4 linked regions of the Homo sapiens genome follow. The protein of the gene in region 3 interacts with the protein of the main gene of each other region in a pairwise test. Each region holds a gene or a part of one and is shown on either strand. Other genes may lie near its edges.

Evidence for each region.
Region 1: the proteins of CRKL (region 3) and USP53 interact in binary tests that used the Homo sapiens proteins (3 or more experiments, as listed by UniProt).
Region 2: the proteins of CRKL (region 3) and PDGFRA interact in binary tests that used the Homo sapiens proteins (3 or more experiments, as listed by UniProt).
Region 4: the proteins of CRKL (region 3) and YES1 interact in binary tests that used the Homo sapiens proteins (3 or more experiments, as listed by UniProt).

Annotation. Positions count from the first base shown.
Region 1 is NC_000004.12:119,207,162-119,216,594, reverse strand, and holds the start of USP53 (ubiquitin carboxyl-terminal hydrolase 53), read right to left. Parts: upstream 3,883-9,433; 5' UTR 3,722-3,882; exon of another isoform or gene 3,377-3,721; intron 3,362-3,376; exon of another isoform or gene 3,056-3,361; intron 2,526-3,055; 5' UTR 2,373-2,525; intron 1-2,372. UniProt on the Homo sapiens protein: Deubiquitinase that mediates 'Lys-63'-linked deubiquitination of tight junction proteins, such as MARVELD2 and LSR, and which is involved in the survival of auditory hair cells and hearing.
Region 2 is NC_000004.12:54,295,293-54,300,334, reverse strand, and holds the end of PDGFRA (platelet-derived growth factor receptor alpha isoform 1 precursor), read right to left. Parts: 3' UTR 2,090-5,042; downstream 1-2,089. UniProt on the Homo sapiens protein: Tyrosine-protein kinase that acts as a cell-surface receptor for PDGFA, PDGFB and PDGFC and plays an essential role in the regulation of embryonic development, cell proliferation, survival and chemotaxis.
Region 3 is NC_000022.11:20,926,680-20,935,268, reverse strand, and holds part of CRKL (crk-like protein), read right to left. Parts: intron 1,491-8,589; coding exon 1,025-1,490; intron 1-1,024. UniProt on the Homo sapiens protein: May mediate the transduction of intracellular signals.
Region 4 is NC_000018.10:731,437-740,025, forward strand, and holds part of YES1 (tyrosine-protein kinase Yes), read right to left. Parts: intron 8,376-8,589; coding exon 8,299-8,375; intron 5,526-8,298; coding exon 5,372-5,525; intron 1,530-5,371; coding exon 1,398-1,529; intron 1-1,397. UniProt on the Homo sapiens protein: Non-receptor protein tyrosine kinase that is involved in the regulation of cell growth and survival, apoptosis, cell-cell adhesion, cytoskeleton remodeling, and differentiation.

The sequences.
Region 1 (9,433 bases), on a different chromosome or scaffold from region 3:
TCACCACAGAATTGTTGTAAATATTCATTTACAAAACCTTTCTGGACTAGAAAGGAGAGAAGGAGAAAATGAGTTAAAATGTTAACAGCCAATGGATCAGAAAGAAAGATAAAGTGACTGAAGTAAGTGTCAGCAACAGAGACTTGATTTAGAAATTTTCAACCAAAGTATAAGTTTTCAGAAAAATAACTACTTAATGATTTTTTTTTTTTTTTAGACAGAGTCTCACTCGGTCGCCCAGGATGTAGAGCAACGGCACAATCTCAGCTAACTGCAACCTCCGCCTCTTGGGTTCAAGTGATTCTCCTGCCTCAGCCTCCTTAGTAGCTGGGACCACAGGTGTGCACCACCACGCCTGGCTAATTTTTGTATTTTTTAGTACAGATAGGGTTTCACCATGTTGGCCAGGGTGGTCTCAATCTCCTGGCCTCAAGTGATCCGCCTGCCTCAGCCTCCCAAAGTGCTAGGATTACAGGCGTGAGCCACAGCACCCAGCCAACATTGTCTAATTAACTTTTGACTTTCTAGTGTTTAGCACTATGCCTAGCATACAATAGGAGGTCAATAATGTTTATTCAATACTTCTAACTCAGAAAAGCGCAGCAGTAAAAAACTTCCAAAGGAAGGGTATTTCTTAAAACTTCTTTTTTGTAATATGTGTAAAATTGAAAACTAATGTTATCTTCAAATTAATTCAAAAATACCATGACACCTCAAATAACTGATTTTGTTCATAAAAATAGCTAAGATATTGGAATAAGGTTTATTTTGCAGAAAAAATTCTGATGAACTGCAGAGTATATGAAGCAACTCTTCTGAAGTCTCATGTAAAATCATAATTCTTTAGCCAGATGCAATGGTTTGTAGCCTTTTCTTGTATCATGGACATCTTTGGTGGCCTAATGAAGCCCCCTATGAATAATGTTTGTAAATGAACAAAATAAAATTCATAGCATAAAAAAAAGAAAAAGAAAAAAAAATACTAAGATCACAAAGAAAACCAATTATATTAAAACTCAATTCTAACCACAGACCACAGTTCTAATCATGGGCTTTTGGTTCAACAATTCCTGATAGAGGATATGAGTTAACCTGGAAGAGCACAGAATATTATTTGCCTAAATATTCTATATACTGTACATGGTATCTATGGTATTCTTATTATTAATTTTAAAAAATGTATAACCTGCAAAGATTACAATATTACATAAAGCTATTTAAAATTTAACCTTTGAGGATTTTTACTTGTAGTAGAGCAGGTTGCATCCGTTTCTTGTTCCTATCATGTGCAAATACCATAATGCAAAATTTTCTAAAATCATCAGTATAAAATTAACAATATAATAATACTATATTTGTAACATCATTAATTTCTACCTAGCTCTGCAAAGATAACATAAATCAGCATACTTCCCTCCTTAAAACAAGAGCTCATGAGCAGAGTAAGCGAAACTGGCAATCATTTTGGCCCTAGCACACCTAGCACACTGTGTTAAAAATGCTTCCAGATGCAATATATAAACTACCCAACTTTCTACAGGTTGTTTTTGAGTTCTACAAGAAATACCTTACAGTTAAAGCTGTCAAAAAGGATCTTCTAAGTATTTTAGTAACCAAACATCTTTGTAGGATAGTTTATTCCATCACTTTATAAAGATCAACTGTGTTTTCGGAAAGTTGTAGGGTAAAGCAATGTACCCCCTCCTACCCCAGTAAGTAAGAGAGTTCCAAACAATTCCAGGAGGGAAAATAATTCTGATTTTGGCTTTTAAAGCTACATATAACCTTAAATGAGATAAAATTTTCATTTTTAAACTTTGTCTTGCTAAAACAAACTTGTAAACCATATGGTACCAAAGTTGTATTTCTTGATACTGCACAGTTTAAAATAAACATCTAACATTAAACAATATAAAAGAACTTGAATCACAGCACATATGGCAGGTCTTAAGAGTATTGTGATTTTTCTTTTTTTTTTTTTTAAGGAAAAGAATACACTAGTTGGAAAAGTCTACCTTCCCATTAAAATATCTTTTTTAAAACTATCTTATGCATTGTTTAGTGAAAATATTAACGAATTGATTATTAGTATCAAATTCCATGAACTTACACAATCTACATACATTTTTAAAAATATTTGTTAAAATTCTTAGGAAAAAGGAAAGGCCAGTTCTTAGTCTCTTTTTTACACGTTAGGAAGAAATACACAAACCTCCCAGTTTCATTAATGAAAAAATCTTAATAAATCACTTTCATGGTTTATCACCAGTAAACACGAACCTGCACAAATTGTATCAAGGAGCTTATTTTAAAAGCCTTTGAGATACAAAACAAAAACCTTATTTCTCAGACTATAATTAACTCCTACTTACACCGAGTTTGTCTATTTGGAATTCTTATGACAACAGCAGGTAAATCATATATTACTTTTGCAGAGTAAGTTTTGTTCCCTTTGGTTTTTTTTTTTTTTTTTTAATTTATCTTTAACAGGACGAAGGGTCTTTGCTTAGACCATCATCACGGAACTGAAAAGAACAGAAAATAACAATTATCAATGTAACTAAAAGTTCATTTCCAACAGACATTTTGTGTTAGCACTTGCTACTCATTTTAAATAGTGAAAATCAGCAAGCCTTTTCTTTTAATAACTAAAAGTGAATCAGATCTTAATCACAAAAACCTTCCTAAGTGTACTGCGTTTTTTTGTTTGTTTGTTTGTTTTTTGGAGACGGAGTCTGGCTCTGTCGCCCCTGCTGGAATGCAGTGGCGCGATCTCGGCTCACTGCAACCTCCGGTTCAAGCAATTCTCCTGCCTCAGCCTCCCGAGTAGCTGGGACTACAGGTTAAGTTTACTATTAAACCTACCTCAAAAATAGCCTTAGATATTCTTTGCAAATATATATATTTATACATACATACATACACACACACACATATATATATATATATATATCTATTTCCAGATAAGGAAACTTTCGGAAAACTTTGCTGTCCAACTGGTAATTCCCTGCATACTTTGCATTGATAAAGAAAACCTTGTAGCAGGGTTACAAACCTCAAAACATCCTCAGATTGCAGGTTTTAGAAACCCTCCCTATTACACCTGTGCAAGTACTTCCTGTTCTCCAACACTGTTTAAAAATAGTTTGGTAAATGCCCCGTAAGCCGCCCTTTAGAAGCTAAACATTAACTTTATATACATCACCACTACCACTGAGAAACCACCACCCCAAGAATCTCACGAGTCCAGTCATCTCTCTTCTCCAAGGAGGGAGCATAACCATCCTGGACCCCTTTAAGTAAAAAACTGTGTGCTCAGGCGAGGCAATGTGGCTTGGACAGCCAGGGGCAGGAGCCAAGTAAGGGTATTACTCACAATCCCAGCAGGACTCCAGCTTGTCGCCGCCCTCAAACACGGCAGCAATAACATCCAGGACCCAACAAGTACAGCACCTCCTCCCGCCTCGCGAGCGCCTCCAGCCTGGCCAGAGGCATCTCCGCCAGACGCGGCGAGAAGGGGCGAAAGGGCTGCGTGACCTCTGGCGTCTGAACCGCCCAGCAAAGAGAGTGTGTGTGTGCCCAGAGGGCCGGGGCCATAGGAGGTCGCCGGGCTGCGAGGGGAGAGACGAGCTCTGGGGCTAGAATGAGAGTGTCCCGGTCAGGCCCGCGGGGGTCGCAGGTCTCTGGATCTCCAACCAGAGGGCTAGTTTCGGAGACTTACCTTGAGCTCTACCCTCCTTGCGCGAGGAGCGTGCGGTCCAGGTAGAGAAATACAGGCCTTCCACTCCCACAGAGCTACCTCCCGCTGGCCCAGCCCCGCTTCACGCCGACACCCGCCAGACACACTGACTGCTGCCACAGTACCGAGGCTCACCGGGAACTGGAGCACAGGCGGCTGGTCTCCGCCGCCCAGAGCCCGACCCTGTGAGCGGAGCATGCGCATACGCCCCAATACCCAGGGACCAGTCAGGCCAGTGACACCTGCGATCAACAGGTCCCTGGAGCCCCGCCCCTCTCCCCGCCTCGAGCCCGCCCCTCGGAGCGGGCTCCGCCTTCACGCTCACCGAGGTAACTCCGCCTCCGCTCGCGATTTCCCGGCTTTCTGGACCTGCGGAATTCTATTCCCGCGGGGATTTGATGGCGTGCGCGATACAGTTGGCTTCCTCGGAGGCGCGAGATCGCGCGAGACCAAGAGATAGAACATTTCTGCAAAAGCGGCAGCTTGGCGCTGGAGTTTGGTTGTTGGGGGAAAGGTGGTTGTAGGACGTGCTGTCTGGTGTGGTGAGAAAGAGGCTAGTTCTTCAGGAGGAGGCGATTATTCTGGTGCTCTTGGTAGTTCATTCGGTATTTTCTAAGCTCAAGAACGCGGATCCACCAAGGACTTCACTTAGGTTAGGTGTTACCTGAGAGAACAATCCGTAGTTTGGCATCAGAACCCCATGCGGACACGCAGTTTCCTTTAGATTTCCGTGAGTCGTTAGACGATCTATTTGCAGTTAAATGGCTTCCTGTGGCGTGAATGTGTATTCCCCAAGCAGTTGTTTCTTGCCTTTAATTAGATAGCTTTAATAAGTCTGTTGACCTGGTTAATGATTGTCAGAAAAGTCTGTCCGCCTCTTTGCCGTGCTTTCGAACAGGTTTTAAGTTAAAAGGTACTGCTGGGAATTGGGCTAAACTTTGATTTTGAATAAACCTTTCTTAGGAATAGTAGTAAAGGAAAAACCCATCGTCACTGATACCGAATATCTCTCAAGTAAATAAAGAAGGTTTTGGAACTCATTCCAAAGCTGGTGTAAGTTGAACATACTAATTGTAAAAATGGATTTCAGTAAACCCAGAGGCACTTCTAAAAGTTTATTTGAAGAAAGAGGGGGAAGAAATATTGGTCGTTGATACAGGAGACAAATAGGACCCGTTTGTAATGTCTGAGGCTGAATCATTAAGAATTTATTGAGCATTTACTATGTTCCCTTTACTGAACTAGGCACTGTCAGAAATAGGATGAAATAAAGCCGTGGTTTCTGCCCTCAAAATATTAAAAACTTTGGGAGGGGTGGGGGAAAAAAAGATCCTACTCTGCATTTTTAAAACAATAAGAGCACACCATTAACTCTTCCCTCCGTTTCTCTAATGTCATTTTCTCCTCATTCTGCAGCTACTTTTCTGGTGCACTTTAAATACTGTTTTTCCGCTGCGTGGTCTCTGTTCGCCAGCACTCCATTTTCTTTTGCTGTTTCTGTTTAATGTTAATCCATGTCTCCTTGAGCAGTCTCTTTCCCATCATGGATTTACCTACCACGTGTCCTGTGCACCAAGAACTCTCAGGTGTATATCTATACGTCGGACATTTTTAAGCAACATCCTTTGGATTTCACACAGTATCTTAAATATGTCCCAAATTGACATGGACATCTTTACTATAATCTGTTCCTGATGCCATGTCCCTCTTCACCCATCTGGAACCTACACCATTTCCATTCCCTGTTTCAGAAAATGACACGCAACTGCCCAAGTCAGAAATCTATGAGTACCCCTGTTACTTTTCCTTCATTTCCTCTTTTCTAATATCAAATTTTGACTCTTATTTCCTTAAGTATCTCTCAGGTCCACCCCTCCACTCTCACTGTCTTAGTCCTTCAAGTAATCACCATCTCTTATGACTCATCTTCCTTGTACTATTGCAATATTCACAAGATATCCTCTAGTTATTTCCCACACCAGTCCAACCTCCATTCTATTAATAATTTTTCTAACGTGAAAATACGATCATTATACTTCTCTGCTAAGAATTTTTCATTACCCACCGGCAGGGCCTTTCATGATCACACTGTTAAACTCATCGCCATTCTTCCTCCAGTTCCTCCACATTAATCTTTCTAAAGTCCTTGCTTTCTATGTTCTTGGTTCTCTCAAGATCCTTTGGTTCTCTCTCGAATGCTTATCTCCATGGATCTTTTCATAACTTTCTGAGACAAAATTGTCATCCCTTTTGGGACTTATTTTTATAACAATTATGTTGTACTATATTTATTTCTCTGCAAATGTACCTGACAGAGTAACCCCCACCTCCACCCTTGAGAAATAATTTGAACTGTGGATAATAATGGCTTATACTACCTCCCTTCCTTATTTAGCAATTACAGAAGAATACCCTTCAGTTCACCCTGCTCAAGAATTTGACTAAACCCTGACTATACACTTTTAAAATTATATAATTTCATACTTTCTACCAGTTTTTAGCATATCTATGTACCGATCCTTAAATGGTAGAGTTGTAATAGGACCCAATTTAAGCATCAAGAGGGCAGAGTCTGAAGCAAACATGAAAAAATGGAAAATTGACATTGCAGGACAGCTGTTGCTCCCAGAAAATTTGTAATTGGGAAAGTCACAACAAGGATTTAAAATATTTTAATTCTTACTATTTGTCCTTGAGGGACGTGTGTGGGTTTGATTCCCTAGTTTCTGATTGGCTGGACCCAAATTTGTGAAGACCAATCTCTGCACCTCACACAGGCAAAGAGATCATGAAAGGGAGCAGGCTTGGCATGCCAAAGAATACCCTAGATCATTCAGCTGAGGCTTAGCCAAAGTTCACACCACCAGCACATATACACACCTCTTAGTGTTATTCTGGATTGATTATAACTCAGACTTTGAGAAATGTGCTACCCTGTGGCTAGATGCACCCTGCCACTAATGTCTGGTAGGAATAGCAACATTGTGTCCTGCGGAGCTGTAACCCAGTAGTTCCAGGAGGTAATCAACAGCTTAACCATGACTGAGCTGGGTGGGGTAGAGTGAAATATAGCATAGGGAAGTAGTAGATCAATGACTGACTCAGGGTTAGATACTAGACAGAATCCTTTTTTTCCTAAATGCATCCATAAGGACTGACAAGTGAATTTCCTTACTACCTAAGCTCTCTGTTTTTTCATGTTTCCAAGGCATAGCACAGTGCCTAGCACAGATGCTTAACAAGCAGTGTTTATTGGATGGAGTAAAAATTGGAAGTTTTGTTGATTTTTTTGAATAGAGTCATCTGTGTGGGCTAAAGTTGGAGAGGGCTTCTGTGGGAGATCAAATATGAACTTCAGCTTGGAAGGATTATAAGCAAGTGTATTTGAAGGCATTGAGGAAGATATGTAACTTAAAAGAGCAAAGTTTTAGAAACAGGATTGAACAAGGCCAGTACAGGACTACAATGGGAAGCCTTTGTAAGTTCTGGGGCAGAATGATTCATTTGGAATAAGGTACAGAAGAACTGTAGGGGAAACTATAGCTAGGCAAGAAGAGAAATCTCTAGGCTGTGACTCAGGGATGAGTCAACCAGAAAAATCTAGTCACAATTGACCACTCCCTCCTTGACATCTTCATCTCAATTCTTGTGACATCATTCCTTTATGGCTTTCATCCTGCCTCATGGGCTTCTCTTTCTCAGCCTCCTTTTCTCTTGTACTTTTCAATCTGCTTTAAATGTTGATGTGCCTTAGTGCCTGATCCTGAGATGTCATTTATCCTCATGGTTTTAAATCTATTTCCCACACAGCAGCCAATTAGTCTTTTAAAAATATTGACATGTTACTCCCCAACTTAAATTGTTCAATGACTTTTCATTCACATAGAATAAAATCCAAAATTCTTGCCAAGGCCTATAGACCCCTGAATGATCTGTTCCTGCTTCCGCAACAACATCTCATGCTGTTCAAGGCTTTGCATTCTCTATTCTCTATGTCTGGAAGACTAGTTCTAAACTGGGGGTGGTTTTCTCTCCCATGGACATTTGGCAATGGTTGGAAACATTTTTGGTTGTCACAGTTGCGGGCAGGGATGCTGCTAAACATCCTACAATGGACAAGACAGTCTCCCACAACAAAGAATTATCTAGTCCCCAATGTCAGTAGGATCAAGGTTGAGAATTACTGGCCTAGAACATTCTTCCCATGGGTCTCTAAGTGATTGCTATAGTAATGTGCCTTGTCATTGAAAGTAGCTGGTCTGAACGAGTAAGGCACAGATGAAGTGGGAAGGAGAGAGAGAGTTCCTGAGGATCCTCTCTCCTCTTACAAGGAATTCTGGACTTCAGTATTTACTGGATTCCTAAAGCTCTGCAGCATGACATTTTGTTAAACACTGGAAGTTCAAATTCAATATCCATGATATCTTAGCTAGCTCTTACTTGGCTGAAACTTTTCTGGCCATCCATCCCAGACCTTCTAAGGCTCTGCCATAACAAGGTCAACATTTGCTAGTAAATCACTGCTAGTGGTTTAACTAGTGGCCTCTTTAATTTTTGCTGACTTAGGGTCAGCGTAGGCAATTTCATTACCCTTGTATGTTATTTCACATTGAAACATTCTAATTTTCTTATCATTAAAATTGGGGTGAGAAGAAATACTTATACAAATATCTTTTTATAAGGCCCTAGATAAAAGCAACTGTAAAGTCCCACACTAGGTTATGATGGCCATTAGTGCCATTATTATGATTACTAATGCTGATTACTAAAAAAAAAAAAAATGTTCTTATAGAATCCCATTATCATTGATGACAATGATATGTATTTAATTAAAATCTCAAAAGTACAGAAAGCTTTAGATTTCATCTGGTCCAGCCTCCCACTCAATGGAGGATCATCCTCACCAGTGGGCTATCAGCTTCTGTTCAAATATGGTAACAGTGATAGAAAACCTAATGCTTTGCAGGGCAGCCTATTATTGCCCTTTTAAGACTAACTCAAAAAAATGTTCATCACAATGAGTTGGAATCTATCTCCTAGTAATTTCCACATACTAGCCTTATTTCTGTCCTTTGAAACAACAGAAATCTATATTCTCCTTTTTCATAAGATAGTAGTTAACACTGAAAATATCTTTTGTGTTTTTAAGCTAAAATACTCCACTCTAGCAACGATTTTTGAAAGCCTAGTAAATATTACACTAATCCACATATTCATTCATTTATTATACAGTACTTCACCTCATCCTACAAATGATTTAAATGATTTTAAATAAATTCTGGCATATAATAAAAAATGGAGGTCAAACATAAATAAGAAAAAACAATCAGAGCTATCAGGAATTAAAATAAGAGTAAAAGGTAAAGAGCGAGAGCAAAAGAACAGATATATGCATGAGCCTGTAACTTAAACTTCAGTTTGGCTATGTTCTAAAACCAAAAGTGAATGAGATATTTAAGTTATCAGTAACAGGAAAACATTTTTCTGTCATCGTTTAAAATGCTTTTCTCCCCCATGTGAGCCTGTATCTAAGGAGACTCTTATCTATGTTCACTGACAATGGCTTCATCAACATGTTCCTGGCAAATGCAGTAACAAGCCTCACATACCATCCATGTGACTGAATTCAAGATGCTGTCTTGTCAACTTCAGAAAAATATGTGGTGCCCAAAAATAAAAACAGATTTTTGCAAT
Region 2 (5,042 bases), on a different chromosome or scaffold from region 3:
ATGGATCCCTGTGGTGCCAGGCAGGAATGGGCTGCTTGGGGACTCAGCGAGCTCCCAGGGCCTTTCTGCTGCTTCCTCCACCCCTGTATTTTGCTCAGCTCTCTAACTTGACTCAGCTTGAGGTAAAGTCAGAAACTTCTCCCGCAAGCAAAACTTCAGCTGCTCCAGTGGGACTGCGCATTCGGTAGAGGAGGGTCTCCCTGTACCACTTCCGCATTTGGGGCAACTCACAATATTTGGGGTGTCTCCCCGGTCCTGCAGGAGAAGTCCACTTCCATCAGAGGGTCTGTGGGTCCTCTCAGGATCTGGAGCTAAAATTCACAATGCAAGCTGCTGCATGCTGCTCTGTCCTGAGCTGCAATCTAGTCTTGCCTCTCATATGCCATGATCTTCTGAATCCCTCCTTGGAGGTTTAACTCCAAAGAAGTATGCTTCCAGCTGCAGGCTACTTGAATTTGGATAAGGAGTTATATTGGAATAGGGTGCTATATTCTGATTATTAACAACATAATCAATTTTCATTATCCGTGAGCTCAAAATAAGGTGAGTTGTACCATTTTTTTAAATTCCTAAAGTCACTTGCTTCAGTATGCTTCAGAACACAAAACCCACATTCTCTCACACTTACCACATTGTATTTCTTCCAATCCTATTTTGAAGACCATGATTCCTGGGCAATGTGGAGCAGAGACTAGAAAACTGCATGTAATGTGCAAAGCCAGTGATTCACGTGCAGATGCTCAAGAACTTATGTATCAATCCTATCTGAAGACTTCAGCTCAACATCAATTTATTTCTGCACACCCTTTGGCCTAGCAATTTCATTTGTAGAAATCCATTCTACAAAACACATTTTTGTATGCAAATATGTATGTTGCAAAAATGTTCATGAAATCATTTTAATAGCAAAGAACTGGAAACTATAAATCCATTTTACAAGACCATGATTGCATAAATTATGGTACATTTACATAATGGGATCCAATGGAGCTAATACCTCTGTATACTTTTCACAGAGATCGCTAAAACAGCATTAAAAAAAAAACAGAACTGTGGACTGTGTTATGGGTAATGATTTGGCAATGTAGGTTCATCAGCTGTAGCAAAGGTGGAGAATGTTAGTGATGGAGATGCTATGTTGGTGTGGGGGCAGGGCACACAGGGGAAATCTCTGTACCTTCTACTCAATTTTACTGCAAATCTAAAACTGCTTTAATAAATAGTTTTAAAAAGGAAAGAAAAAAGAACATTACAAAGGATTACATAAAGTGAGAACCCATTTAGGTAGATATGAAGCAAACGTAGAGATGTGTGTATGGGAATATATATACACAGATGCATACAAAGGGAACTGGAAGTTTAAAAGACACACCAAGTGGTGCAGCTCTGCCTCTTGGAAACAGGACAGGGACAGGGAAGAAGACACGGTGAAAAAAATAATTTAACATTTTACTTCCTACACTTTTACGACAGTTGAATGTTGTACAGAGTTACTGCAGTCCTGTATTCCTTATGCAGGGGAAGAAAACACCACAGGATAAAGATGAACAATCAAAAAAATGATGAGACCAAAGATGAGCCAAGTGCCAATCATCTTTAAGTCAAATACTGTGTCGTGGAACAATCTAGCTCATATAATGTCTTAAACCTTAGATATTCTATTGGTTCATCAAAAGCCTAATAAAGGCCAGGCGTGGTGGTTCACACCTGTAATCCCAGCACTTTGGGAGGCCGAGGCAGGCAGATCATCTAAGGTCAGGAGTTCGAGACCAGCCCGGCCAACATGATGAAACCCCCATCTCTACTAAAAATACAAAAATTAGCCAGGCATGGTGGCAGGCGCCTATAATCCCAGCTACTTGGGAGGCTGAGGCAGGAGAATTGCTTGAACTCGGGAGGCAGAAGTTGCAGTGAACTGAGATCACGCCACTGCACTCCAGCCTGGATGACAAGAGCAAAACTCCGTCTCAGGAAAAAAAAAAAAAAGGCCTAATATAGAGTCCTACAAATGTTGCTAAGAAAGTAAATAGAACAGGATTGCTTTAATTCTTATGATTAAACTAAAAACAAAAATGCTGAAACCTTAGTATAACTTTAAATTATATATCATTTATTGAAATATAAAGATCTTCATTTACACGTTTTAAAACAAAAACATGAACAGGGGCATTCGTAATACATTTTGTATTGGTAGACCCTATCAAGTTAGTTTTTCTCACACATTCACCACACCATTGTTTTGGGAACATGTAAGTATCTTTCTTTTTATTATTTCTAAAATATAAATTTTGGACATTCAAAAGTGCAACAGTTAATGTGCCTGTGGGGATTATCACAGTTAAAAAAATATAAACGAAGGCAGTGATACAGCTTGTCATAAATGTTTTGGCAGTATTCTCCAAGTCTATATAGAAATACATATATACATATTGATGTATAACATCATTTTATCTTATGTCCCTCTTCACAAAAATAGGACCATTTTGTACAGATTGGCAGACCACATTTTAAGGACATCACTAATCGTTTAAAAAGTCACAAATAGTGTTTCTCAGGCCGGCTTTGATTGTCATCATAAAAATAGAAAGTAGGAAAGATTGGCAAATTTTCTTCTGGAGACTTTGCAGGAGGCCAAAAGGAAACAAATCTGGAATTTGCTGAAAACACACACACACACACAAATGCAGTCATATACAAATTCAGGTGGGAGCATTTGTTAGGACTGGAAACTGCTGGACTGAGAAGTTTCATCCGGCCTCATGATGTCATGCAAGGCTCACAGCAATATCAAAATGCAAAGCACCAACAAAATAAGGCTGTACAAGGGAGAGTGAGCGATAAACAGAATGCTTGAGCTGTGATTCTAGAAACACAAACGTATTTCAAGTCTAATTGGCTCTACAGAACCTAGTCAGGTTTTCGTTTTTAATTGGCCAATCTGGCTCAGTCTTCGCACTTACTATGAAAAAGTTGGATAAGAAAGTTGGGGCTTGCATTGAGATTACACCAGTAGGTAGTCAAGTACTTTATTATTGCTTCTGCATCTTCCAAAGCATCATCTGCCGATAGCACAGTGATTGCAGTAATCACAGCCCATGTTTCATTCATATGGTATCAGCAATTAAGCAGTATTGCAAAGAATGCCAATGAACCCACACCAACCTGTTTGACAGTGTGGATAGATGTGACAATTCATCCTCCCATCTAACCTCAAATTATCAGTAAAACTTAAAATGTTTTTTCCACCAAAACACTGAGCTGGTTACACAGAGACTTGGAACACTGAATTGCATAATTTTTGTACATGCCTTTCCTTGGCGGGGTATGGAGTGGGAGGCAGAAGACGGGAGACGGGGAAAGTTCAATCTCCCCCATACAGTGGGAAGTAGCATCTTTACTTTTGGAAAACCTGTCAAAACCAAACTTTAGCTTTCTCAGCCTCAGCTAAGACTGGAAAGTTAAATTAAGGTCGCAATTGCTAGCTAGATGGCATTAAATGTCACTAACCTGAAGCCAAGGATTTAAATAGTAGGCTTCCTGCGTGGTTGAATGCCAACCCTGTTCCAAAGTTCAAATTATTTGTTTCCCATGGCAACTTCCTGAAACCTAAGTCAGTGTTTCCGAAAACTGGCCGATCAGAACAGCCAGGGAGTTTAGAAAAATACAGACTCTGGTTTCCCTCAGACTTCATACTTCAGAATCTCAAGGATGGAAACCCAGGATCTAGTCATCCTGGCTGCCACACACATTTGAGAACTGAGGATCCAGGCTAATGCACATCCAGCCTCCACTAAAGAATATCTTTATGGTCTCGAGTTTCAAACTCTTTCTCTTTGGGGTAAGGGGTGAAAGAAGGAGGCTGATGTCTGGGCATCCTTCTGACCCTTTTCAGGTTCATAGATTCAAAAAATACATATATTGGGGTCGCCAAAGCTTTCATCAGGCATGAAGAAAAAAAAAAAAAAAACTTCTGCAAATCCAGTCTTTTTGCTGATCATTATATTTTCCATTGGGTAATATACATGAGAAGTTATGTTCAGCACAGGTTTATGCCTCTACATTGAGAACTTTTAGGACTTAAGAGTTTTGTTTGTTTCTAATCCCATTATTTCAGAGGGCAGTTAATTGTTTTTTAATACGATGGATTGGGGAACCTATTCAGTACAGTTAAAAATTCTGACTTCCTGGACAACACTACTTTTACTTTGTTCTCTATGCTCAACTAAATTTAATTCACTAAAGCTATTACCATACTTTATAGAGAAACATGTTATTTAATATAAATGTCAAAAACTGTCAAACTCATCACCTACTTAGTAAGGATTGTTTTAAATTGTGCTTTCTCTGGAGGGAAATCATGTTACATTATTACACATTTAGCATTACTGATAACAGTAGTAGTATTATAAACATAGATTACAATATGAAAATGAGTTGTCAGGCTTCTAAATGACCCAAATCTATTAAACAAGGTTGGTTAATTATTATTCTTTATCTCTTTAACACTAAAAAAGATAGCAAAATGCTATAGTACCAGTACCTTTTAAGGTTCAAAAATGGTTTTTCATGCACTTCTTTAAAAAGTTCAACAGCAGCTGACATCAGGTTTCAAGAGGGAAGTACATGGATGGATTGAGTGGTCTCTTCAGAAGTCCAAAGAAGATAGTTAATACAATCTAAACACAGCCTTGGTTAGAGTTATTTACATAATTACAATGCTGAAGTTCTGTCGCAGTATAAATTGTGTCTGTTGGACTCTCACCAATGTCCTTGAAGCACAAAGTTCACCTTCTGTGGCCTATTATTCCCTTATCCATCTATCTCCAAACTTCACACACCACTGAGATGCTACTGAGGCATTGCAAGAGGCAACACTGACAAAGTTCATTTCAAAATATCCCATTCATTCATATTTAGAACGCTCCCCGAGGCCCTTGGCTGGGAACTTCTCTTTAAACATCAACCAAGTCCTCCTCTCAACCTCTGCATTGCAATAAAGTGGTTTTCTGAACGGGATCCAGAGGTGGCCCCAGAAGTGGAAG
Region 3 (8,589 bases):
TGGTGGCAGGCATCTGTAATCCCAGCTACTAAGGAGGCTGAGGCAGGATAATCATTTGAACCCAGGAGGCAGACGTTGCCATGAGGCAAGATCATGCCACTGTGCTGGAGCCTGGGTGACAAAGTAAGACTCCATCTCAAAAAAAATCATTCCTGGGCCGGGCACGGTGGCTCACACCTGTAATCCCAGCACTTTAGGAGGCCAAGATAGGCAGATCACGAGGTCAGGAGATCGACACCATCCTGGCTAATACGGTGAAACCCTGTCTCTACTGAAAATACAAAAAAATTAGCCAGGCGTGGTGGCGGGTGCCTGTCGTTCCAGCTACTTGGGAGGCTGAGGTAGGAGAATGGTGTGAACCCAGGAGGTGGAGCTTGCAGTGAGCGGAGATTGAGCCACTGAACTCCAGCCTGGGCGACAGAGTGAGACTCCATCTCAAAAAAAAAAAAAAAAAAAAAAAAAATTCATTCCTCTACCAAGCTCAAGAGAAATTCTAAGACATTTTCATATTTCTCAACTGATTCCAATGTTAGAAATACAGAACCATATATGTTGATTTTGCCTCTAGGTCATGGGTCTTCCTTAATCATTATCTTTCCTTACTGGAAGAAAAACCAACAACTGCAAAACTAAATCTGTTAGGCTTTGGGAACAAGAAAGAGCAAGAAGGCTGAGAATTTGGGGCAAACAAGGAATAGGACAGAACAAAACAAGCTGTGAAACACTAATAATGGGCCAGGCATGGTGGCTCACATCTGTAATCCCAGTACTTTGGGAGGTCGAGGTAGGAGGATTGCTTGAGGCCAGGACCTCGAAATCAGCCTGGGCAAACAACTCTTTTAAAATTAGAGACCTCGTCTCTATAAAAAAATTTTAAAATGAAACGCTAACAGTGCGTATCTTCCAAAATCATCCAGTGCTCTAATTCCATGAATATAAGCTTAAATGAGCAGAAACTAAACTAAAACTAAAAATTAAAACCAAATGTCAAAGGACCCAAAAAGCTAATCTGAACAGATTTTACCTCTAATGCCAAGGCAGTCTTGTCATAAGCACAGGGTACTCTTTTCTGGATTGCTTTCGCAAAGACAGGTCCATTCTGTGTGGATGGCAAAGGGGTGATTGCTGCCCCAGGAGAACCGGAAACTGCAGGTAGAGGAGTTGTGGTCTGAGGTTGAGCGTATGCATGAGCAGGTTCTGGGATCCCATAACTGTTGGAATTCCTATTTCCATGCTTTCCGTGTGGTGAGGATCTCACAAGCTTTTCGACATAAGGGACAGGAATCATCCCAACCCGGCCATCCTTGTTCCGGGCACTCCACCACTGTTCTTCAGGCTTCTCTATTATCACTAGGATCTCACCCTTTTTAAAGGGCAGGTCTTCGGCATCATTCCCAGGAAAATCATACAGAGTCCGTACATATTCCAGGTTATCTTCTGCTGTAGGCAGGTTGGGTGCTGAGACAGATCCCATTGGTGGGCTTGGATACCTTAAGAGAGAAAGAAAATTACTCTAAGAGAAAAATCTTACTCTAAGCCAGTGCCTGTCAAACTTCTTAATATACCACTCTCCTCTATAATAAATTATTTTCCTTTTTTATGAGACAAGTTTTGCTCTTGTCGCCCAGGCTGGAGTGCAATAGCGTGATCTTAGCTCACTGCAAACTCTGCCTCCCAGGTTCAAGTGATGCTCCTGCCTCAGCCTCCTGAGTAGCTGGGATTACAGGCGCCCACTACCACGCCCAGGTAACTTTTTTTATTTTTAGTAGAGAAGGGGTTTCACCATGTTGGCCAGGCTGGTCTTGAACTCCTGACCTCGGGCGATCCACGCACCTCGGCCTCCCAACGTGCTGGGATTACAAGCATGAGCCACCATGCCCGGCCTCTACATTTTTTTTGGAGATGGAGTCTTGTTCTGTTGCCCAGGCTGGAGTGCAGTGGCAGGATCTCAGCTCACTGCAACCTCTGCATCCCAAGTTCAAGCAATTCTCCTGCCTCAGCCTCCTGAGTAGCTGGGACTACAGGCACATGCCACCACGCCCCGCTAATTTTTTCTATTTTTAGTAGAGACGGAATTTCACCTTGTTAGCCAGGATGGTCTTGATCTCCTGACCTCGTGATCTGCCTGCCTCGGCCTCCCAAAGTGCTGGGATTACAGGTGTGAGCCACTGAGCCCAGCCTTTTTTTTGGAGACAGAATCTTGCTCTGTCACCCAGGCTGGAGTGCAGTAGCGCAATTTCAGTTCACTGTAACCTCTACCTCCCGTGTTCAAGTGATTTTTCTGCCTCAGCCTCCCGAGTAGCTGAGATTACAGATGTGCAACACCATACCCAGCTAAATTTTGTATTTTTAGTAGAGACAGGATTTTGGCATGTTGGCCAGGCTGGTCTCAAACTCCTGCTGGCCTCATGTGATCCACCCGCCTCAGCCTCCCAAAGTGCTGTCATTACAGGTGTGAGCCACCACGCCTGGCTTTATTTTCCTTTCTATATTCTTAGTAGTTAAGAAGGTTCTATCATGTTGTAATTTTTGTAGTCTGTACTGTCCCAAAAGTTACTATTCTGAATGTCTTTTCAAATTACAAGTATACACACACACATACACTCCATCTCTGTTTTACAGAAACCTTTTGATTACACAGAGATACCTGGTTTAAATTTATTTTTATAATCTCAAGTAAGTTCGGAAGCTGCCTTCCTTTGGACCCTTGTCACAACCACCACACACTCTTCCTCCCAGTCCTAATCTATGGCTTACATCCTGCACACTTCCCTGGACACACAGAAAATGACAAAGGCCTCTGCCTCTGGCCTCTTGAAAAAAAAGGAACAAAAAAGGGCTTACAGACTTGCCAAATTAAAAATAATAAATCCACCAGGCGTGGTGGCTCAGACCTGTAATCCCAGCACCTTGGGAGGCCAAGGCAGGCAGATGACTTGGAGACCTGCCTGTCCAACATATCAAAACCCTGTCTCTACTAAACAGACAAAAAATGAGCCGGGCATAGTGGCACACACCTGCGGTCCCAGATACTCAAGAGGCTGAGGCAGGAGCATTACTTGAGCCCAGGAGTTAGAAGCTGCAGTGAGCTATGACTGCATCATTACACTCCAGCCTGGGCAACAGAACAAGACTGTCTCAAAACATAAATAAATAAGAGGCCGGCGCAGTGGCTCATGCCTGTAATCCCAGCACTTTGGGAGGCTGAGGTGGGCGGATCATGAGGTCAGGAGATCGAGACCATCCTGGCTAACACGGTGAAACCCCGTCTCTACTAAAAATACAAAAAATTAGCCGGGCATGGTGGTGGGTGCCTGTAGTCCCACTTACTCAGGAGGCTGAGGCAGGAGAACGGTGTGAGCCCGGGAGGCGGAGCTTGCAGTGAGCCAAGATTGCACCACTGCACTCCAGCCTGGGTGACAGAGCGAGACTCCGTCTCAAAAAAATAAAATAAAATAAAATAAAAATAAAAATAAATAGCTAGCAAGAGTAGTAGGAGCAAGAGTAATAATAAAGAGCTCATACTTATTATCTATGCTAGGCATGGTTTACGATCTTTGAAGAGATTGGATTATTTAATAGTCTGTGAGGTAGATGCTGTTATTATCCCCATTTTACAAATGAGGAGCCAAAGAAGAGGTTAGACTTGCACTCAGGGAGTCTGGTTCTAAACTCTTCACTCATAATGAGCTAATCAGCCTTAGGGACGAACCCTGCATCTGTCAGGTGTATGAGAATTAATGGCATAATGCATGTGAGGCATTCAAAATTACCGAGCAGCACCAAGCATCCAATGTACCGACATGAACACACACATACCCCTTCAAGTATATCCCTGCTTCTATTTCTTTCTCTTTTTTTTGAGACAGGGTCTTGCTGTCATCCTGGCTGGAGTGCAGAGTGGCACAACCACAGCTCACTGTAGCCTCCACTTCCCAAGCTCAAGTGATCCTCCCACTTCAGCCTCCTGAGTAGCTGGGACTACAGGCAGTTGCCATCACACACAGCCAATTTTTAAATTTTCTGTAGAGATGGGGGTCTCACTATGTTTTCAGGGCTTGTCTTGAACTTCTAGCCTCAAGCAATTCTCTCGCCTTGGCCTCCCAAAGTGTTGGGATTACAGGTGTGAGCCATCACACCCAGCCCCTGCTATTTCAAGAGCCACAGAGAGCCTGTGAACAGTCCAGTAAGTACCATATAAATTTCAGACACTATTAAGAGCACAGTCAGTTCCACCTTAGACTCCATCCAAGAGTATTTTATTATTTGTATAGTTAAAAGCAGTTAGCCAGTGTGTGGTGGCTCACGCCTGTAATCCCAGCACTTTGGGAGGCTGAGGTGGACGGATCACAAGGTCAGGAGATTGAGACCATCCTGGCTAACACGGTGAAACCCTGTCTCTCTACTAAAAATACAAAAAATTAGCCAGGTGTGGTGGCACACGCCTGTAGTCCCAGCCACTCGGGAGGCTGAGGCAGGAGAATGGTGTAAACCCGGGAGGCGGAGCTTGCAGTGAGCCAAGATCACGTCACTGCCTGAAACAGTTAAGACTCTATCTCAAAAAAAAAAAAAAAAAAAAAAAAAAAAAGCCAGGCGTGTGGTGGCTCACGCCTGTAATCCCAACACTGGGAGGCCGAGGCGGGAGGATCACTTGAGGTCAGGAGTTCAAGACCAACCTGGCCAACATGACAAAAAACCCTGTCACTACTAAAAATACAAAAGTTAGCCAGGTGTGGTGGCGTGCGCCTGTAGGCCCAGCTACTTGGGAGGCCGAGGGAAGAGAATTGCTTGAACCTGGGAGGCAGAGGTTGCAATGAGCTGAGATCACACCACTGCACTCCAGCCTGGGTGACAGAGCAAGACTCCATCTTAAAAACAAACAAAAAAAAGAAGATAGCCAAGCCCATTCATTTACGTATTGTCTATGACTGTTTTTCACTACAAAGGCATAGTTGAGTAGTTGGACAGAGACTCTATGGAAAAGCTGAAAATATTTAAAATCTGACCCTTTACTCAACAGTTTGCTGATCCCCCATCTAAATTCCTGGGTTAGGGAGGCAAAGTGTGCTTTTCAACTTCCTTGCTTCCCTGGTGAGGGGTATGTCTGTGTAGAAATTTGATAAAGATAGTTTCTATTTCCCTCCACTACTATACTGCTATAGTGACCTTGGGGCTCATTTTCTGTGTTAGTATCTGCAGAGATATTCATAAATTTGACACCAAATCAATCTCACCAGCCATAACCCTGACACAAATTCCAAGTCCTCTGCCCTATATTCTCAAACTCATTTATTCATCAAACTCCCCTGAAAATTACACATTAGTTCCACTGAAGAGATAAATACATGTTGCTCCATGTCAGATATCTTAGCCTTTCCATTAGACCCCACTGTCTAAAGAAATATGAAGCATATTCATCAGAAAATTTATTGCTTCCCAATTATTTGTTCTTTGAGCAAGGTTGAAAATAGCACCCTCCCCCAACTTCCCTTTAAAATATAAAGTGTTGCCCAGGCGCAGTGGCTCATGCCTGCAATCCTAGCACTTTGGAAGGCCGAGGCAGGTGGATCATGAGGTCAGGAGTTTGAGACCAACCTGGCCAACATGACAAAACCCTGTCACTATTAAAATACAAAAATTAGCCAGGTGTGGTGGCGTGTGCCTGTAGGCCCAGCTACTTGGGAGGCTGAGGCAAGAGAATTGCTTGAACCCGGGAGGCGGAGGTTGCAGTGAGCTGAGATCATGCCACTGCACTCCAGCCTGGGCGACAGACAGAGATTCCGTCTCAAAAAATTAAATAGATAAGGCAGGTGCAGTGGCTCACGCCTGTAATCCCAGCACTTTGGGAGGCCAAGGCGGGCGGATCAAGAGGTCAGGAGATCGAGACCATCCTGGCTAACACAGTGAAACCCCATCTCTACTAAAAATACAAAAAAATTAGCTGAGCGTGGTGGCAGGCGCCTGTAGTCCCAGCTACTCGGGAGGCTGAGGCAGGAGAATGGTGTGAACCCGGGAGGCAGAGCTTGCAGTGAGCCGAGATCGCGCCACTGCACTCCAGTCTGGGTAACAGAGTGAGACTCCGACTCAAAAATAAATAAATAAAATAAAATAAAATAAAATGCACAGGGTTTTCAAGCCCATCCAAACACCCTTGACCATGCTTCTCACTTTTTGCCTATTGTCCACTACACACTTTGAGCAGCAAAGCCCCTAACAACTAATTCGTAACTGACTTTTCTTTTCTGATGATAACGAATCTCTCAGCTCTTTTGGTTAAAAGCGTTCTCAGTTTCTACATGTATAAACCATACACAAAACATCTTTAAACCAAGTGCTAATATGTTCTAAGCTTAAAATCTCCTTATGCATGCTAAGAACCAATACAATCAACTTCTAGAAAAAGGAAGTTTCAAAGGTGCTGGTAATATTCCTTTTTTTTTTTTTTTTTTTTTTTTTGAGATGGGATCTCGTTCTGTTGCCCGAGCTAGAGTGCAGAGGCACAATCATGGCTCATTGCAGCCTCAACCTCCAAGGCTCAAGCGATCCTCCCACCTCAGCCTTCTGTGTAGCTGGGACTACAGGTGCATGCCACCACATCCGATTAATTTTTGTATTTTTGGTAGAAACAGGGTCTTGCCATGTTGTCTAAGCTGGTCTTGAACTCCTGAGCTCAAGCAATCTTCCCACCTCAGCCTCCCAAAGTCCTGGGATTACAGTCTGGGCCACCACGCCTGGCCAATGTTTTATTTATTTATTTTTTAAAGGGAGCACACAGATGATAGTTTTTTTTGGCTTGTTTTGTAAATTTTTTTGAGATAGCGTCTTGCTCTATGGCCCAGGCTGGAGTGCAGCAGTACGATCATGGCTCACTATAGCCTTGACCTCCCAGGCTCAAGTGATCCTCCCACCTCAGCCTCCCATGTAGCTGGGACTACAGGCATGAGCCACCATGCCCAGCCAATCCTTGTTTAATTTTTTGCAGAGATGGGGGTTTATGTTGCCCAGGCTGGTCTTGAACTCCTGGGCTCAAGCAATCCTCCTACCTCAGCCTCCCCACTATTTGGGACTACAGGTGCATGCCACCACACCCAGCTTACATATACTTTTTTTTTGAGACAGAGTCTCACTCTATTGCCCAGGCTGGAGTGTAGTGGTGTGATCTCAGCTCACCAAAACCTCTGCCTCCTGGGTTCAAGCTATTCTTGTGCCTAAGCCTCCCCAGTAGCTGGGATTACAGGGCCCCACTACTGCCGGGCTAATTTTGTATTTTTAACAGAGATGGGTTTCACATGCTGGCCAGGCTGGTCTTAAACTCCTGACCTCAAGTGATCTGCCTCCCTCGGCCTCCCAAAGTGCTGGGATTACAGACATGAGCCAACGTGCCCAGGCTTACTCTTTTTCCTTTTTTTTTTTTTTTTTTTTTTTTGAGACAGAGTCTTGCTCTGTTACCCAGACTGGAGTGCAATGGTGCGATCTCAACTCATTGCAACCTCCACCTCCCGGGTTCAAACAATTATCCTGCCTCAGCGTCCCAAGTAGCTGGGATTACAGGCATCTACCACCACGCCCGGCTAATTTTTGTCTTTTTAGTAGAGACAGGGTTTCACCACGTTGGCCAGGCTGGTCTCGAACTCCTGACCTCAAGTGATCCACCTGTCTTGGCTTCCCAATGTGCTGAGATTACAGGCGTGAGCCACGGCACCCTTACTCTTTTCTATGTATGAAATATTTCACAGTTAAAAAAAAAAAAAAAAAGGTAGAAAACTTAATTCCAGCTGGGCGTGGTGACTGGCTCATGCCTGTAATCCCAGCACATTAGGGGGCCGAGGCAATTGGATCACCTGAGGTCAGGAGTTTGAGACCAGCCTGGTCCAATATGGTGAAACCCCATCTCTACTAAAAATACAAAAATTAGCCGGGCATGGTGGTGGGCGCCTGTAATCGCAGCTACTCAGGAGACTGAGGCAGGAGAATCACTTGAACCCGGGAGGTGGAGACTGCAGTGAACCGAGATCATGCCACTGCACTTCAGCCTGGGCGACAGAGCGACACTGTCTCAAAAAAAAAAAAAAAAAATTCAATTCCAAGATGAGCTAAGTACTTCTCTAGTGAAACTGCTTTAACCACCATTCTTTTTTTTTTTTTTTTTTTTTTTTTGAGACGGAGTCTTGCTCTGTCACCCAAGCTGGAGTGCAGTGGTGCGATCTTGGCTCACTGCAATCTCTGCCTCCCAGGTTCAAGCCATTCTCCTGCCTCAGCCTCCCGAGTAGCTGGGACTATAGGCGCACGCCACCATGCCTGGCTAATTTTTTATATTTTAGTAGAGACAGGGTTTCACTGTGTTGGCCAGGCTGGTCTCGAACGCATGAGCTCAGGCAATCCACCTGCCTCCGCCTCCCAAGGTGCTAGGATTACAGGCGTGAGCCACCATGTCCAGCCAGTAACCACCATTCTTTATCACTGACCAGCATTTAATGCCCAGGTCCCCTCCCTTCTGTCCCTGGGCTTTCAGGCCATCACTAATGGCTCCTCCTCCTATGCTTGTGGCTGCCTCTCCTTCCGCAGCTTCTCTTTCTCTACTTATTCCTG
Region 4 (8,589 bases), on a different chromosome or scaffold from region 3:
GATGGCATTAGATCTACAGCTGGAGGGAACTGTAGGGAAGAGGAATATGTTAGATAACATGCAAAACCCATAAGATTAGCAAAACAGTTTTTCCTAAAGATTAAATTTTATATGCTTTCACTCTCAACATTAGGATACTTCAGTACAAGAGTTTAGAAGTAACAAACTAAAGTAATACTGATCGCTGAATTTCAAGTGAGCTAAAATTTCTCCTTCCCCCTAGAAACTATATAAATCTCTTAATTTTGAGGCCAGGCACGGTGGCTCACGCCTGTAATCCCAGCATTCTGGGAGGCCGAGGCGGGCAGATCACAAGGTCAGGAGATCGAGACCATCCTGGTTAACACGGTGAAACCCCGTCTCTACTAAAAATACAAAAAATTAGCTGGGCGTGGTGGCGGGTGCCTATAGTCCTAGCTACTCGGGAGGCTGAGGCAGGAGAATGGCGTGAAGCTGGGAGGTGGAGGCTGCAGTGAGCTGAGATCGTGCCACTGCACTCCAGCCTGGGCGACAGAGCGAGACTCCATTTCAAAAAAAAAAAAAAAAAAAAAGTCTCTTAATTTTGAAAGGGAAACACTTTCATTTTTCCTCTTTATTAATGGCAGATATATTTATTAAAGTGCTGGTTTATAAATAGGTTAGAGAAATAAAACAAGAAAAGAATCTCAAAATAATCTACTGAAGAAAACAAGGCAAGTACATATTTAAAAAAATATACCATGATGGGCACGGTGGCTCACGCCTGTAATCCCAGCACTTTGGGAGGCCTAGGCAGGTGGATCACCTGAGGTCAGGAGTTCGAGACCAGCTTAGCCAACATGGCAAAACCCCATCTCTACTAAAAATACAAAAAATTAGCTGGGTGTGGTGGTGGGTGCCTGTAATCCCAGCTACTTGGGAGGCTGAGGCAGGAGAATTGCTTGAACCCGGGAGACAGGTTGCAGTGAGCCAGACTGTACCACTGCACTCCAGCCTGGGTGACAGAGCAAGACTGTGTTTAAAAAAAAAAAAAAAAAAAAAACAAAACACCAATCACACTACTGGGAAAGAACAGTTATTTAGGGTATAGGGTGGATGAGCCAGGATATTTAAGATATGTTTATTATCTGAGAGAACAGTAAGAGGCCCCTTTGGAAAATGTCCTGAGAAAGCTGAGGTGAATGTGGGGCCTATCTCATGTGCTCACCCTGTCAAGGATCGTGGCTTTCACTGACTTACCCGTCCAATGCCACAGTTACCCATCCAATGCCACAGTAAAGGGAAGGAGTGGGGAGAGGGAGAGGCAGGGGGACTATGAGAAGAAATAAAGGCCTTTTCCCCGCTTACAATTCTGTTCCTAATAAACTCCTGATAAAGCCACTCATGAGATAACCAAGAGCTATAAAATGCAAGCTTACCTGGATATGGCACTCGGCCCTTTGTTACTAGTTCTGTTTGCAGAATTCCAAATGACCAGACATCAGACTTTATTGTAAACCGACCATACAGTGCAGCTTCAGGAGCTGTCCATTTGATTGGAAATTTTGCACCTAAAATAATGTTGACCATCTTGCTTAATTGTTTTTTAAAAATCTATTTGTGTAAACATAGCATATGCAGGGCTAATGTTCTGTCAATATCTCTACTGTAGTCATCAGTGTCAATTCTTTAAATGTACAAGATACATGGGATAAAAATTCTTTAATTTTTAAAATTCATATTGAAATAAATCACATTTCTTCCTGATTAGACAGCTGATGATATAAAAAATAAGTTGGCTGTGGGAACAGAAAACAATTTAAGAAAATAGAGGTTGAAGCTCTAGTAAGCCAAAGATACATGTTATAATATGTGTAACTTTTAAGTACAGTCTGGCACCTAATAGCTGTAGTTAACTATTGGTTGATGAGTGAATATTCTATTGAGTTATAATGTTTATGGGTTTTCCTACTTTTTATATCATTCTGGAAAATTTTATTGTACTACTTTTAAAAGTCCATGTTAATTAACTCAAATACTTACTGTATATCTTTTTTGTGGAGGGCATTATGCTAATCACTATGGAAACCTAAAAAGCATGGCTTTCGGCCGGGCGCGGTGGCTCAAGCCTGTAATCCCAGCATTTTGGGAGGCCGAGGTGAGTGGATCATGAGGTCAGGAGATTGAGACCATCCTGGCTAACATGGTGAAACCCCGTCTCTACCAAAAATACAAAAAATTAGCTGGGCGAGGTGGCAGGAGCCTGTAGTCCCAGCTACTCGGGAGGCTGAGGCAGGAGAATGGTGTGAACCCAGGAGGCGGAGCTTGCAGTGAGCTGAGATTGCGCCACTGCACTCCAGCCTGGGCAACAGAGTGAGACTCCGTCTCAAAAAAAAAAAAAAAAAAAAAAAAAAAAGCATGGCTTTCATGAAGTTTATAAACTTATTGCAGAAATAATATTATAGGTGTCTTACATTCTTTAAGTTATTTATATGTGTTTGTAGATAGTGTTTTAAAACAGAGTTCTTTAGATATTTAGACAAACAGATGATCAATTTTCCTTGGCACCATTACAAAATGTTTTATTTAAAAAGTGGCAGGTGGTTGGGCACAGTGGCTCACGCCTATAATCCCAGCAATTTGAGAGGCCGAGGTGGGCAGATCACCTAAGGTCAGGAGTTCAAGACCAGCCTGGCCAACACGGTGAAACCCTGTCTGTACCAAAAATACAAAACTTAGCCAGGTGTGGTGGTGCATGCCTGTAATCCCAGCTACTCGGGAGGCTGAGGCAGGAGAATTGCTTGAACCTGGGGGGCAGAGGTTGCAGTGAGCCAAGATCATGCCACTTCACTCCAGTCTGGGCAAAAAAGCAAAACTTGGCCAGGCGCGGTGGCTCACGCCTGTATTCCCAGCACTTTGGGAGGCCGAGGTGGGCGGATCATGAGGTCAGGAGATTGAGACCATCCTGGCTAATACGGTAAAACCCCGTCACTACTAAAAATACAAAAAAAAAAATTAGCCGAGCTTGGTGGCAGGCACCTGTAGTCCCAGCTACTCGGGAGGCTTAGGCAGAATGGCGAGAACCCGGGAGGCAGAGCTTGCAGTGAGCCAAGATCGCGCCACTGCACTCCAGCCTGGGTGACAGAGTGAGACTCCATCTCAAAAACAAAACAAAACAAAAAAAACCAGGAGCAACTACAACATACAACATCACTAATCATCAGGGAAATGCAAATTAAAACTACAGTGAGACACTACCTTACTCCTGTAAGAATGGCCATAATGAATAAGTAAAAAAAAAAAACAATAGATGTTGGTGTGGATGTGGTGAAAAGGGAACATTTTTCCACTGATGGTGGGAATGTAAATTAGTACAACCACTATGGAAAACAGTATGGAAACTCCTTAAAGAACGAAAAGCAGAACTACCATTCAATCCAGCAAACCCACTACTGGGTATCTTCCCAAAGGAAATGAAATCAGCCAGGTGTGGTGGCTCACGCCTGTAATCCCAGCGCTTTGGGAAGCCAAGGCGTGTGGATCACCTGAGGTCAGGAGTTTGAGACCAGCGTGGCCAACATGGTGAAACCGTGTCTCTACTAAAATACAAAAATTAGCCGGGCCTGGTGGCAGGTGCCTGTAATCCCAGCTACAGGGGAGGCTGAGGCAGGAGAATCATTTGAACCTGGGAGGTGGAGGTTGCAGTGAGCTGAGATTGTACCACTGCACTCCAGCCTGGGCAACAGATTGAGACTGTGTCTCAAAGCAAAAAAAAAAAAATCATTATATGAAAAAGATACATCCACAAATGTTTATAGCAGCACAATTCGCAATTGCAGATATGGAGCCAATCTAAATGACCATTGACCAATGAGTGGATAAAAAAAAATGTGGCATATATACACCATGGTATACTACTCAGCCGTAAAAAGGAATGAAATAATGTCTTTTGCAGAAACTTAGAGCTAGAGGCCATTATTCTAAGTGAAGTAACTCAGGGATGGAAAACCAAATATTGTATGGTCTCACTTAAAAGTGGGGCTAAGCTATGAGGACACAAAGGCATAAGAGTAATATAATGGACTTTGGGGAGTAAGGGGGAAAGGTTGGGGGGTGGATAAAAGACTACATGTTGGAGGTGAAACCCCGTCTCTACTGAAAATACAAAAATTAGCTGGGTGTGGTGGTACGAGCCTGTAATCCCAGCTACTCGGGAGGCTGGGGCAGGAGAATCGCTTGAATCTGGGAGGCGGAAGTTGCAGTGAGCCGAGATCGTGCCGCTACACTCCAGCCTGGGCTGGGCAACAGAGTGAGACTCCGTCTCAAAAAAACAAACAAAAAAACCTACATATTGGGTACAGTGCAAGATGCTTGGGTGATGGGTGCACTGAAATCACCACTAAAGAACTAGTTTCCCAAAAACTATTGAAAAAAAAAGTGGCAGCTAAATTAGGCCCTAAAGAATGGTTAGGATTTTCACATGTAAAGATTACAGGCCGGGCATGGTGTCTCACGCCTGCCATTTTAGCACTTTGGGAAGCCAAGGCAGGAGGACTGCTTGAGCCCAGAAGTTCGAGACCAGCTTGGGCAACATGGCAAAACTTCGTCTCTACAAAAAATACAAAGAATTAGTCAGGCGTGGTAGTGTGCACCTGTAGTTCCAGCTACTCAGGAGGCTGAGGTGGGAGGATCACCTGAGCCCCAGGAGGTCAAGGCTGCAGTGGGCTGAAATCACGCCACTATACTCTAGCCTGAGCAACAGAGGGAGACCCTATCTCGAAAAACAACAACAACAACAAACATTACAGATAGGAAGGCATTCCAGATGGAGGTAACTGTACAGAAGTATGGAGGTTGAAAGAAAGCACTATGTCTAAAGCAGGGTTTCTCAATCTCAGCACCGCTACCATTTTGGGCCTGATAATTCTGTTGTGGGGGGAAGGGGGGGTTTGCCTGCACATTTCTGTACACTGTAGGAGGTTCAGCAGTATACCTGGCCTCTACCCACTAGATGTCAAGCAGTAGCCCCCAGGTTGTAACCACCAAAAAAGTCTGTAGACATTGTCAGATGTCCCCTGGTGAGTGGCGGTACAGGGCAATATCTCCTCTGACTGAGAACCTCTGGCCTTTCTAGGAAAGAAATTAAAATATATTTGTTGTCATGTCAAAAGAAGTGTAAAGAGGCTACTACTTGCTCTATGTATAATGCAAAGGATACCTAGTCAAGTTCTTTCTTGGAGGAAATAACTATCAGAAAGCCACAGCAGTACATGATTTTATGAATGAAATCAATGTCTCTATGACTCTTCTGAGGGAAGCTAAAACAATTCTTATTCTGGAAAACCCTGTATAGTCAAGAGAGTTAAGCAAAACACACAACACATTACAAGCTTTTATGTAAAAGTAATTTTACCTTGTCTTGCTGTGTATTCATTGTCTTCAATTAACCTTGCTAAACCAAAGTCTGCTATTTTGCACACAAGATTTTCTCCTACAAGAATATTAGCAGCCCGAAGATCTCGGTGAATATAGTTCATTCTTTCAATATATGCCATACCATCAGCAATCTTGGAAAGAGAAAAACAAAAAACACAAGACATACGATACAAAGGGAAGCAGAGAGAAGACAATTATGGTTAATATCAAATTGTGTCACTGAAAATCATATTATTTTAGAAGGAGATGATGGTAACAGGGTATAGTCTAGAAGATAACAGGAAAACCAGAAAACATAATAAAAATGCAGGCTAAATTCAGATTTCAAAAATCTAACACTGGCTGGGTGCGGTGGCCCACACCTATAATCCCATTAATTTGGGAGGCCGAGGCAGGTGGATCATTTGAGGTCATGAGTTCGAGATCAGCCTGGCCAACACGGTGAAACCCTGTCTCTATTAAAAATACAAACATTAGCTGGGTGTGGTGGCACATACCTGTAGTCCCAGCTACTTGGGAGGCTGAGGCAGGAAAATCACTTGAACCCAGGAGGCAAAGGTTGCAGTGAGCCAAGATTGTGCCACTGCACTCCAGCCTGGGAAACAGAGCGAGACTCAGCCTCAAAAAAAATAAAACCTAACATTACTCTGAAGACCAAGATTAACCCTCCTAATGTCTTCTTGTGTCTGTGGTTAGGAGAAGAGGTAAATCACAAGGTAATTTAGTACCTCTGGATACAAGCTCATCAAGGTCTCTATCAGGCACAACCTAAGATGACATGGTGATAAAGGTATTAACCACAAGGTATAGGTTCCCAAACTACAGCTTGTAGGCCAAAAGTGGCCTGCAGCCTGTTTTTGCACAGCCAGAGAACTAAAACTGTTTTTTACATTTTGATTGATTGACTGAGACGGGGTCTCACTCTGTCACGCAGGTTGGCGTGCAGTGGTGCAATCGTGGCTCACTGCAATCTCTATCTTCTGGGCTCAAGCAATTTTCCCACCTCAGCCTAGTGAGTAGCTGGGACTTAGGCATGCGACACCACACCCAGCTAATGTTTGTATTTTTTTGTAGAGATGGGGTTTCACTATGTTGCCCAGGCCCCGCAAAGCGAGATTATAGGAGCCATCTCGCACAGCCTGGTTTTTACATTTTTAAAGGGTTGTAAAAAGAAAAAAGTATGACAGATTGGATGTGGCTCACAAAACCTAATTTTTTTTTTTTTTTAAAAAACAAAAATGGATTGCCAACCTCCCCTACCATAGAGTGTCTAACTCAGAAGCATGAACTGGCGTGGCATATGCCTGTTGCCTATGTATAGTTTCTCAGTATAAAGCTTTTCTGAATTGTCAGATTCTGTGGACATTTGGAGGCTAGGAGGTAAGATTCCAAAACCAGCATGTCAACCAAAGCCAATAATAAGGCCTCTCAAATACCTACCACATATCTGAAGAGAAACTTTTAACAGTTTTCACTATATATTTAAAACAAAAAGTCAGAAGAGTAAAAAAGTCCCATTTTAAACTGTATATATACCATCTTAATTCTTGTGTTGGACTATAGTAAATAACAAATTCAGGCCAGGTGCAGTGGCTCACGCCTGTAATCCCAGCACTTTGGGAGGCCGAGGCGGGCAGATCACGAGGTCAGGAGATCAAGACCATCCTGGCGAACACGGTGAAACCCCGTCCCTACTAAAAATACAAAAGATTGGCTGGGGGTGGTGGTGGGCGCCTGTAGTCCCAGTTACTCGGGAGGCTGAGGCGGGAGAATTGTGTGAACCTGGGAGATGGAGCTTGCAGTGAGCCGAGATTGCACCACTGCATTCCAGCCTGGGTGACAGAGCGAGACTCCCATCTCAAAAAAAAAAAAAAAAAAAAAATTCAGCATACACTTTAGATTACTAATATTTTCTTTGGAACAGCCCTCATCCATTTTAATTTTCTTAAAATTATCTGTTGAAATATAAATACATATAGACTTTACATTTGTGGAAACATCTATTTTCTTGAGATGGAGTCTCGCTCTTGTTGCTCAGGCTGGAGTGCAATGGCGAGATCTTGGCTCACTCCAACCTCCGCCTCCCGGGTTCAAGCGATTCTCCTGCCTCAGCCTCCTGAGTAGCTGGGATTACAGGCGCCCGCCACCACGCCTGGCTAATTTTCAGTATTTTTAGTAGAGACAGAGTTTCACCATGTTGGCCAGGCTGGTCTCGAACTCCTGACCTCAAGTGACCCACCCACCTCGGCCTCTCAAAGTGCTCAGATTACAAGCGTGAGCCACCGCACCTGGCCTGGAAACATCTATTTTCTAAGAAACCGTATGATACAGGACACCACTGGACTAAGAGTTAGATAGCTGGTTCTAATACTCGTTCTGTTACTAACAAGTTTTGTGAATTTTAGATACCTCTCATCTTTTGATACTTCATTAATCTGTATCATTAAGAGCTCACATTGGATTATCTCTGACGTTCCTGCCAGTTCTAAAATTCCATTATTGGCCAGGTAATCCCAATACTTTGGGAGGCTGAGGTGGGAGGATCCTTTGAGCCAAGGACTTTGAGACTAGCCTAAGCAACACAGAGAGATCCCTGTGTCTACAAAAAAAATAATTTTTTAAATTAGCTGGGAATGGTGGCCTGTGCCTGCAGTCCTAGCTACCCAGGAGGCTGAGGCGAGAGGATTGCTAGAGCCCAAGAATTCAAGGCTCTTCAAGCACGGAGCTATCAGTGCACCACTGCATTCCACCCTGGGTGACAGAATGAGACGCTGTCTCTAAAAAATAAAAAATAAAAATAAAATCCCACCATTTCACTACACATACTATAATATTCTGGTAAGATTATTCCACATTTTAATTTACACTTTTAATTCAAATGGATACATGTATATATACAGATACCTGAGCAGCCATATCAACCAGCTGTGGAAGCTTCAAATACTTTCCATCTCCTTCCTTAAGGAAATCTAATAAGCTTCCTGTAACAGACAGCAAGATATTCATAAAAAATAAGCAAATCTTATATTAGGATTGAAATGAATACTCCTCCACCCCAAATCACAACACAAAACTTCTTAGCTTTTCATTTTTTTTAAATTTTGTGCAGTTTTGCAGTTTCCAAATAATTATCTAGGTCCTAGAAGAGGTCTCTAAGCTGAAATTTTGAAAACTTCTGATAACACATGCAAAAAA